Regions from separate parts of the Homo sapiens genome. Here region 2 is linked to region 1. Evidence: fine-mapped expression QTL. A gene starts in region 1. The other region holds a variant in brackets. All regions are shown on one strand. Distances are from middle to middle.

Region 1 (5,372 bases):
AGGGAGGCCGGGCAGGGCCCAGTTTAGGGGCCCGGGGAAAGGGGAGAGGACTGAGTGGGGGGAGCAGATGCCTGGCACAGCCAGAGCCCTGCCTGGGGGCCACCTATGCCATCCCAGAGCTCACCCCTCCTTGTGACTGGGACTGCAACCTTGACTTCTCAGCACATGGAGGAGGTACCTCTTCCTTTTTCTAGAGACTGGGTCTCCCTGTGTTGCACAGGCTGGCCTCCAACTCCTGGGCTCAAGCAGTCCTCCCACCTCAGCCTCCCAAAGTGTTGGGATTACAGGCGTGCGCCACCACCCCAGCCTGCACCCACATCTGAACCTGTAAGAGGCAAGTCCTTGTGAACTCTGGGAGTTCCAGGCAGAAACAGCAAATTCTGCCCACTTCATAGGGAAGGAAAGTAAAGAATTATATACAGCCTGCATATGTATCTGATACAGGCATTTTTCTGAAGAGAGGACCTAGCTTTCATCACTCCCTACAACTGGTTAAAACTATTACCATTAAGTGAGATCTTCAGTGTATTCTACTTTTCCATCTCTGAAAGATGGAGGTGCAACATCCTTAAAGGCATCATTCCAGTTCCTGGATCCAACTATACCTGAAACCAATCCTACTCCTGGACTTTCCATTGCAAGAATCAATATAGTTCATTTTTTGCTGAAGCTCAGTTCGTAGGCTTAAGCTCATCTGTAAATAAGAGTGGTAACTAACACCTCCTCTCTCCCTTCTCTTGTTCCCGCTCCTTTTTCTCCCCTTGGGTGGTGCCCTACTCCATCCAAATGCCAGCCCAGTTAGGCTGACATACTCAGAGACCCGTGCATGTGCGTGCACACACACAGGCAGAGCCTGGGAATGCCCTGGCTCACACACAGACGCACAGCAGCGCACACAGAAGCGGGGCCCTGTTTCTACTCACGTATTTGCGGTTAACAGGTCGCTCTCAGAGAGAGAGGGAAGCACACGTCTCTGTGGGGACAAGCTGGGTCCAACCTGCTTTGGCTCTGGCTTGCCTTGTCACTTCAGCAGAAATTCCTGGGCAGAGTCCAGGGTCGGAGTAGGTTGGGCCTGCCACCCAGTTCTGCCCAGCGCCTCCCCAGAGGCCAGGGCCACAGCCAGGGTGGGGACCCCAACACGGTCTCAGGGATACAGGAAGCAGGCCCACTTGCAACCTGGCTCCCTGCAGCTCCTGCCCACTGGCTGCTGCTTCTCCATCAGAGATGCCCTCCTCTGCCCTCTCCCCAGTTCCCAAACTGACCTCTTCCAGGCCTATTAGGGCCGCTTCTTCCAGGAAGCCACCTATGTGATTATTTCCCTCCCCCTCCTTCCTTCCCATGGCCTCCTTTCCCCAGCCAGGCTGTTAGCTTTTTGCATTTTATCTTTCATTTTGCATCTTTCTCTATCTCCCTTTCTCACTAGATGGGGATTTATTATAACAGCAACCAATTTTCCTGTGCTGGAAAATGAGGAAAGCAGTGTAGCTGTGAGAAATAGTAAAAGTGTTTCAGGTCTGTCAAGAAAACAAAACCAAATCACACCATTTCCCCTTCATTTCATCTTTGTTAAATGAATACCTAAGCCAACGGTGTGCAAAGCGAAGGGCTGAATGCTTTAGTTTTCCAGTCCTCACACTAAACATTAAACTCATCTGACGGGATTCACAACATCTCTTTAATAATTAATGGTACGCGCTCAGGACAAAATCCTCTATGATGCATAAATACTTGCTAGTACCGGCACCTCCTGGTTGTTTTGGAAGTTTGGAGAGGATGGTGGATGGACACCCCCTCTTTTTGAAAACATTTTTTCTTCATCTGTCATTTGAATTACCAAAGCATTACAAGTGTATCATTAAACATTTAAACATTAGAGAAATATACAGAATGAGGGAAGTTAAAGTCCCCGGAATCTGAGCCCTCAGGGATGACCACTATTGAGTTTGTGTGGCATTTTCCTCCTTTTTTTTTTTTTTTTTGAGACGGAGTTTCACTCTTGTTGCCCAGGCTGGAGTACAGTGGTGCGAGCTCGGTTCACTGCAACCTCCGCCTCCCAAGTTCAAGCGATTCTCCTGCCTCAGCCTCCCAAGTAGCTGTGATTACAGGCATGCGCCACCACACCTGGCTAATTTTGTATTTTTAGTAGAGATGGGGTTTCTCCATGTTGGTCAGGCTGGTCTCGAACTTCCAACCTCAGGTGGTCCACCCACCTTGGCCTCCCAAAGTGCTGGGATTACAGGCATGAGCCACCGCGCCTGGCCTTTTCTCCACTTTTTTTTTCCTAAATGTATGTTATTTTATGTTATTCATTTTCCAATAGGGGATCACACAGTAACAGTGTTCTCATAATTTGATTTTTCTAGCAGAGTTCCGCACACTGTTGAGAGCCCATGTGTTACCTTGATTGAAAACTAGCCACAGAGCAAGACTCTACCTTTAAAAAAAAAAAAGAGGGGGGGCACGGTGGCTCATGCCTGCACTCCCAGCACTTTGGGAGGCCAAGGTGGGCAGATCACTTGAAGCCAGGAGTTCGAGACCAGCCTGGCCAACATGGTGAAACCCCGTCTCTACTAAAAATACAAAAATTAGCCAGGCATGGTGGCAGGTGCCTGTAGTCCCAGCTACTCGGGAGGCTGAGGCAGGAGAATTGCTTGAACCCGAGAGGTGGAGGCTGCAGTGAGCAGAGATCACACCACTGCACTCCAGCCTCGGCAACAGAGCGAGACTCTACCTCAAAAACAGAAAAGAAACAAAAACTAAATGCCTCTGAGCAGCACTACTGTCTCCATGGGTGGCCACCACAGGGATGGGCCTGGAGCTGTCCTCGAAGGGGTCTTCGCCAAGCCCTAGTGAAGAAAAAAAGGACGCTACCTGCTTTTCCACTTTGCCCTGTGCTACCCCCTTCCCCTCCTTTCTTCAGTCCCGCCTTCCCTCCTCTCCTACTGTCCTTTTCTCTCACCCTTGTTTCTGTCAGCATCCAGAGGGAAGCCAGGAACACAACACATCCAGCAGCAACCATGCAGTGCAGCTTATAACCTTCACATCGTTGTGGGCCCTAATCTCTACAACAAGGATTTAATGGGCTGTGTGTCTTGGGGTGGACCTTGAGCTTGGAGCCCAAAGGTCTCCACTCCTGACTGCCAAAGTTAACTTGCTGCCTCATCTGGTGGTGGGTAATAGAGCACATGAGGAGTCAGCGTGCTCCTGCTTAGGAAGTACCTGGCAGGGAGTCAAGCGGCATCAGGCTGGCAGGTGTCATTGCTGTCACAGGTCCCATCCGGGGTGTCCTGACACACTGCTCCCCTCCTCCAGGCCAGGAGACTCCGGGCTTCTCCCCTGCTCCTCCTCTCAAGGAGGCATGGCCAGCAGGGATCCCAGACCCCAGAAGCCAAGCGGTCTTTTCAGGTGGAATGTGGCAAAAAGCCACAGGCTGGGGAGTTGGGAGGCTGGATAGATTGGGGTGGAGACCCCAGGGAAAGACCAACAGCTGGAGGACCTCAGGTGTCCCGGCTGTGCCCCTCCAGCTGTGGGACCTCAGCATGTCCTTGGGCTTCTTGGTGGCCTGTTTCCTAAGGAGACAGCCTCTGAGGCCCGGCACACCCGCAGACGCCCGCTGAGTGAGACCTAGAGCTGAGCCAGGCCAGGGCAGAGTGGGGAGAGGACCACATAAATATACATAGATAATTTCCCTCACCATCCAGCAGAGCTCAGAAGGGTTGACAGTAAAGGGGCTGCTCCACCCCTCCAACTCTATCCCATTCCTCAGAGGCAACCACCTAACTTTTCTGGTTTTAGTTCTTCTGCAGGCCACCTCCTGTTTTAGGGAATTATTAGTCAAAGAGTTGGAGAGGATCCCTTCTCGCCAGGCTCTGACATAATAGGTTATTTTATAAGTAGTGAGTGAAACATTCAAAAAGCACAAGAACTGTCAGAAGAGTTGCTCAGCAATCTCTTTATTTTCTTCTCATGATTCTGCCCACACTCATTTCTTAGCTCTTCACAGGCGAGGTCTCTTTCATTGCATCGATTCGTGTATCCAAGCACTGGACAAATAAAGAGGCTTATCACTCGTCAAGTTCCATGAACATGACCTCATCATTCTTCTCTCCTAAACCTGGGATGATTGGCAGAAAGGGCATCCATACAACTTTTTCTTCTGCATTTGGCATTGAAAAATGGACTTCCCGTAGTCTGTAGTAGAAATATTGGAAAGTAGCAATAATCCTAGCACTTTGGGAGGCCAAGGCAGGTAGATCGCTTGAGCCCAGGACTTCAAGACCAGCCTGGGCAACACAGGGAGACCCTGTCTCTACAAAAAATAGAAAAAATTAGACAGGTGTGGTGGCGTGCACCTGTAATCCCAGCTACTCAGGAGGCTGAGGTGGGAGGATCATTTAAGCCTGGGAAGTCAAGGCTGCAGTGAACCATAATCACACCACTGCACTCCAGCCTGGGCGACAGGAGTGAGACCCTGTAAAAAAAAAAATTGATGACATAGAGCTAAATACAAAGACTAAAGAAATATCTTGGGCTTTTATACTCTTTGCTTGTGACTCTTCTAGTTTTCCTGTGGGAACGGACTAGCCCAAGTGTTAGAGCACACTGCTCTCCCGGCAACTACAGAGCTAGTTCAGCTGGTCCCAGGGGAAGAAAGCATTCCAGTACCCCAAAGGCTGGAAGCCCCCAGCCTGCTTGGCATGATTATCCAACGGTTTCCGATATAGTTTACTCCTTGACCCACTCTACTCACTGAGAACATCTGGGCACATGTGGTCATCATCCAATACAAAATGGAAGGCCGAGTCTGGGGCTCATCTACGGCAGCAACAAGAGGCCTGGTAGAATTAGGATGCCGGGTCCCACCTGCAGGAGTGCTTAAGGCCACCAGGCAGGGCGAATTTTACCCAAGCAGTTCAGAGCTCACTGTTCCCAAATATTTAATATTTAATTGATTGTACTTAAAAAGTGTATTTCCCTTGTTGTTCTTTTTACCTTCTATTCCTCTTGCCTCTCCAGCTCATATTAGCATTTTATTTATTCATTTATTTTTTTGAGACAGGGTCTCACTCTGTCTCCCTGGCTGGCGTGCAGTGGCGCAATCTCAGCTCACTACAGCCTCGACCTCCCACCAATCCTCCCACCTCAGCCTCCAGAGTAGTTGGGACTACAGATGTGCACCATACGCCAGCTAATTTTTTTTTCTTTTTTAAAAAATTTCATCCTGGTTGTTCTAATATTTATTTATTTACCTATTTTGTAGAGACAGGGTCTTACCATGTTGCCCAGGTCTAGAACTCCTGGGCTCAAGTGATCCTCCTGCCCCGGTCTCCCAAAGTGCTGGGATTACAAGTGTGAGCCACTGTGCCCAGCCT
Region 2 (5,372 bases), 24 kb before region 1:
GGAGGAGACATAGCTAATGTGGCCAGGGGGCAGACACAGAGGCAAGCCCAGCAATGACGCAGGAGAGACGCGGGCCAGTGGTGGGCGGGGGAAGGCGCTCTGGCGGACAGCAGCTGCGTGGCCCGCCGGGCACCTCTTCCCCTGCTTTTTGGCTAACGAGGCTTTAATTTCCCTTTGGGAAACAGCTTACCTGCCTATCCACTGAACTCTGCCCTGCACTGTGGACACGCCAGCACATTCTCACCTCCATGCTTTGCCCATGCCATTTCCTCTTCCTGCCTAGCTCAGTCTGTCCAAATCTCTTCTGTCCTAAACTCCATGTCAAATGCTGCCTCCTCAAGGAGTCTCCCTCACGGTCTCTTATTAGAAGAATCTCTCCTTATACGCACTCCTCAGGCCCCTCCGTTACTGCACTTGAACGCAGCTGCCTGGGGAGGTTGAACTGCAGAGTGTCGGGTGTGTGTGTTTTTGTTTTGTTTTGTTTTGTTTTGTTGAGATGCAGTTTCGCTCTTGTTGCCCAGGCTGGAGTGCAATGGCATGATCTCAGCTCACTGCAACCTCTGCCTCCTGGGTTCAAGCGATTCTCCTGCCTCAGCCTCCCAAGTAGCTGGGATTACAGGCATGCACCACCACACTTGGCTAATTTTGTATTTTTAGTAGAGATGGGGTTTCTCCATGTTGGTCAGGCTGGTCTCAAACTCCCAACCTCAAGTGATCCGCCTGCCTCAGCCTCCCAAAGTGCTAGGATTACAGGCATGAGCCACCGCGCCCAGCTGAGTGTGTGTGTTTTAAAGTGTAAGAAGCTGCGGGAGCCTCCCTGCCTGGGTGGACGCCAGAGGTCACCCTGAAGCAGACCTTACTTGTCTTTTCTGAAACTTCGGGTACCCCCGCATTGGTTATGCAAAGGTAAGGGAGCAGCTGCTCGTTACCCTAAAGGAATATGGTATTAGGGGCCTTTGCGGGGCTGACATAGGCTCCCCCTCCCAATATTCTCCCTATGCAGAACTGGTCTCAGAAAACATGATGGGCAAATTTGCCCAGGGGGCAAGAAGACTTCAGAGAAGATAGGAACCTGGGCCCCTCCCTTTCCTCCTAGGGCTGACGATGTTAGACTGGACATTCCCTAGGAGTCTGCTGGCACAAGAGATGCTAAGGCTCCAAGGGGAGCTCACCAGAGGTCAGGGTCAGGGTCAGGGGTAGGCAGGAGGGTCTGAACTCATGATCTGGCTCAACGCCAGCCCAGAAGTCCATAGCTAAGTCCATGGCTTGGGCCAAAAGTCTCCTGGGTCCAAGACCCCCAGCAGGGTGGGGAGACTCTGGGAACAGTGGCCAGCATAATGAAAAACAGAAGAAACCTCTGGAACCTGCACATGGGGTCTTGCATAGCAGCTCCATGGTGATGGCGGTCCCGGATGTACCAGAGTGGGCAGCCCTGATTTCCCTCTCAGTGCCACGCATCAGTGGCAGAAAACTGGGGCCAACTACTGGGTGAGTGGGGCCCAGGTCTCTCTCTTCTGCCTGGCAAGGGAGCTTAAGCCTAGAGCAAGCTGGTCTTAGACAGTTGGAGTGTAAGACAGGCAGAGGAGGGCTACACTAGAGTTCTTACTAAACAAGCCATTTCGGTGCTTAAACAATGAACTAGGGAAAAAAGAATACAACCACAGCTCCACCCAGAACAGTGAAGCAGTCCCACCAGTAGCATCCTCATCCTCCGCACAGGCTGACCTGTTTTTAAATTAGGGTTGGGGCTCCACCATTAGACAATAAGGTCTTTGAAACAGAACAGTGCCTTTATCTCCATTTCCCCTATAATATTTTGCAGTGCAGTAAATGTACAATAGATTTTTGTTGGAAGAAAGAAAGGAAGGATGGATGGAGGCTGGGAGGGAGGGAAAGTGGGATCGTAGGTTGAGGAGGTCACAAAGGAGGGAGCTATTGCAGCGGGACTAGTAAGGGCTGGCTTCCTGGCAGAGGTGGCCTGTGAGGGGCCCTGAAGGAGGAGCGCCTGAGAGGATCATTTGAGCCTAAGCCTTCCTGGAAACTGCTCTTTCTGGGCCCAGAGTCTCTGCAGCACATCAGGGACTAAGGTCTCAGCAGGAGCTGTCCCCATGACCCCTACCCCCACTTCTTGTCCTCAGCTACT[C/T]AGTAATTCTATAATTTGGAGGTTCATCTCTAAAAAAAAAAACATACAGAAATATCTTACTTTTGCAAATTTTACAAAATATAGCAAAAACATCTCATGAGGTGAACATTGCTGGGCTCCTCCCGGGCCCCAGGCTTAAGGTTCACTAACTTCCCAGTACGGCGACCTCTGCCCACAGGACTCCTCCCCTCCACCTGGGCCCCCACCATGCCCAGACTCCCCTCTAGCTGGAGTCGCTGGGCGGTGGCTGCTAAAGGCCTCTGGGACCCTGAGTCAAGCTGACCTGAAAGGCAAAGACATCCTTGACCAGCGCCTCCCCAAACACGAAGCTGGAGCCAGCCTTCGTGTAGCTCAGGAAGATCTGAAAGAAAAAAGCAAAACAAACAAAAACAGGCAGTGAGGCTGGGAAGGGAGGAGGGAGGAAGCAGCGGCCAGAGACAGGCGGGTTGGCCCAGGGACGTAGTCCCCCCAGGCCCTTATCCGGGGGGGGGCACCACCTGGCAAGGTGCGTTAAAGCTGCTGTCACGGGCACTCACTCCTAAGCATATTTGCCAAAGAGACACCTTTTTGGTCAATTTTAAAGATATGCTCTGCAGGCTGGGTGCAGTGGCTCACACCTGTAATCTCAGCACTTTGGGAGGCTGAGGCAGGCGGATCACCTGAGGTCAGGAGTTCGAAACCAGCTTGGCAAACATGGTGAAACCCCATATCTGCTAAAAATACAAAAATTACCTGAGCATGGTGGTGGGCACCTGTAATCCCAGCTACTTGGGAGGCTGAGGCAGGAGAATCGCTTGAACCCGGGAGGCAGAGGTTGCAGTGAGCCAAGATTGCGCCACTGCACTGCAGCCTGGGCAACAGAGCGAGACTCTGTCTCAAAAAAAAAAAAAAAAAAAAAAAGAAATGCTCTGGGAGTTATTAGGACAATAAAGAAGAGATAACAGAAGAAGTAACCATGAGACATGTGAAGAAGGCAGTGCCTCTTGTGCCGCTCAGGCCCCTGACAACCAACGGCAAAGTCTCCCCTCATCTTGTCCCCATCCCGGGCTTGTGGCCTTGGAGTCTGAGCCCAGCCATGCTTCTACAGGAGACCTGTGTTATATCCTGAACTTGCAATGTGACTGCAGGGGCAGCAAGTCATTTCTCTTGTTCAGGCCTCAGTGTTCCCATCTATAAAATGGGGACATGACCAGAAAAGAAACTCTCTGTCTTTTCCTCCACACCCTGTACAGTTACTGTCAGTGAGGCCAGCAGGTGTGCACATTCCTGGACCGGCAGGGTTCTCATGCTCCACCCTGCACAGAGCACAGGGAACTGCAAGCTGGTGAGAGGGAGGTGAGTAGATTAACATATTTAACCTATGTCCTTGATGATTTATATTTTTTAAAGTGGTAAAAATACAAAAATTAGCCAGGTGTAGTGGCTCATGCCTAGAGTCCCAGCTACTTGGGAGGCTGAGGTGGGAAGTTCCCTTGATTCCAGGAGGTCGAGGCTGCAATGAGCTAAGATCACGCCACTGCACTCCAGCCTGAGTGATGGAAGTGAAATCCTGTCTCAAAACTAAACTAAACTAAACTAAACTAAAATTAAAAAAAGGCCAGCATGGTGGCTTATGCCTATAATCCCAGCACTTTGGGAGGCCAAGGCGGGCAGATTACTTGAGCCCAGGACTTCAAGACCAGCCTTGGCAACATGGTAAAACCCCATCTCTACCAAAAATAGAAAAATTAGCTAGTCTCATAACCTGGTTTCAAAATAAATAAACAAATAAATAGATTTAAAAAAAATTCTAAGTGTTAAATAAAGGAGACCATTAGTTTAGACTGAGCTCCTGCACTACTCCCAACAGACCAAACCACAATGGAATCACTCATGCTATAAAGTTCCACATCACAAGTCAAAACTAAGCTGTCTTCTGACCTTCCAAAAAATCAGGAGAATGAGACAGATAGCCAAATCCCCAAATGCAGCATGACAGGCAGTCCCCTCAGCTGTGACCTTTATAAGGAAAGTGACCTTGAAACAACCAATCTGCTATTTATTTTCTGTTTCTGCTTTCTTCAGCCTTTCTCTGTCTATAAAGCCAACCTCCTCCACTCAACTCATCGGAACACCCACTCTATTTTTATAGAATGAGGTGTTGCCTAATTCTAAAATCACAAATAAAAGCCAATTAAGATCTTTAAACTAAATTTGTTCTAATTTTCTTTTGACAAAAGTAAATCATGATAGTTGCAAAACAAGTGTGCATGAATTTAATGATACTTAAAGGGGTTAAAATGGTTGATTTTATGTTATGTATATTTTACCAAAATAAAAAACAGAATTGGCTGGGCACCGTGGCTCAAGGTGAGATCACTTGAGCCCAGGAGTTTGAGACCAGCCTGGGCAACATAGGGAGACCCTGTACCTAAAAAAAAAAAAGAAAGGAAGGAAGGAAGAAAGGAAGGAGGGAAGGAAGGAAGGAAGGAAGGAAGGAAGGAAGGAAGGAAGGAAGGAAGGAAGAAAGAAAGAGAAAGAAAGAAAGAAAGAAAGAAAGAAAGAAAGAAACAAACAAACAAACAAACAAACAAACAAACCATGTTTTAATTAGCTTGGCATGGTGGCTTACACCTGTAGTCCCAGCTACTCAATACTGGGGAGGCTGAGGTGGGAGGATCACTTGAGCCCAGGATGTCAACGCTGCAGTGAGCCATATCCACACCACTGCACTCAGCCTGGATGTCAAAGCAAGACTGTCTCAAAACAAAACAAAATGGGCCCAGGTGTGGTGGCTTACACCTGTAATCCCAGCACTTTGGGAGGCCGAGGCAAGCGAATCGTCTGAGGTCAGGAGTTCGAGACCAGCCTGGCCAACATGGTGAAACCCTGTCTGTACTAAAAATATAAACATTAGCCAGGCATGGTGGTGGGAGCCTGTAATCCCAGCTACTGGGCAGGCTGAGGCAGGAGAATTGCTTGAACCAGGGAGGTGGAGGTTGCAGCAAGCCAAGATTGCACCACTGCACTCCAGCCTGGGTGACAAAGCGAGACTCCTTCTTGAAAGAAAAAAAAAAAAAAGAACAAAAATGTATAACTTCAATAAACGTTATTTTTAAACACACACACACAGAAGTAAATCATTTGCAGATTTGGGTTTTTTTTTTTAGCACTTTTAACTATTACAATTTCCAAGTTACTGCTGATTGCAGACCCAGCCTCTGGAAAGACTACTCTATTGGGACCTCAG

What was found. PIP is the estimated chance that this variant, and not a neighbour inherited with it, causes the effect.
Region 2: its variant is the best candidate, but not a certain one, in a credible set for the expression of SLC28A1 in nasal epithelium (TOPMed, PIP 0.86).

Annotation. Positions count from the first base shown.
Region 1 is chr15:84,882,339-84,887,710 of GRCh38, reverse strand. It overlaps SLC28A1 (solute carrier family 28 member 1), which reads right to left and starts at 3,049. Exons shown (of 19, transcript NM_004213.5): 1 at 2,960-3,049; 2 at 924-1,039. RefSeq lists enhancers at 2,969-3,469, 3,470-3,970.
Region 2 is chr15:84,905,850-84,911,221 of GRCh38, reverse strand. It overlaps SLC28A1 (solute carrier family 28 member 1), which reads right to left. Exons shown (of 19, transcript NM_004213.5): 9 at 2,427-2,504. Among named protein-coding and RNA genes, the nearest start is that of SLC28A1, 24 kb to the right of the region's middle. The variant C/T (reference allele first, on the strand shown) is at 2,144.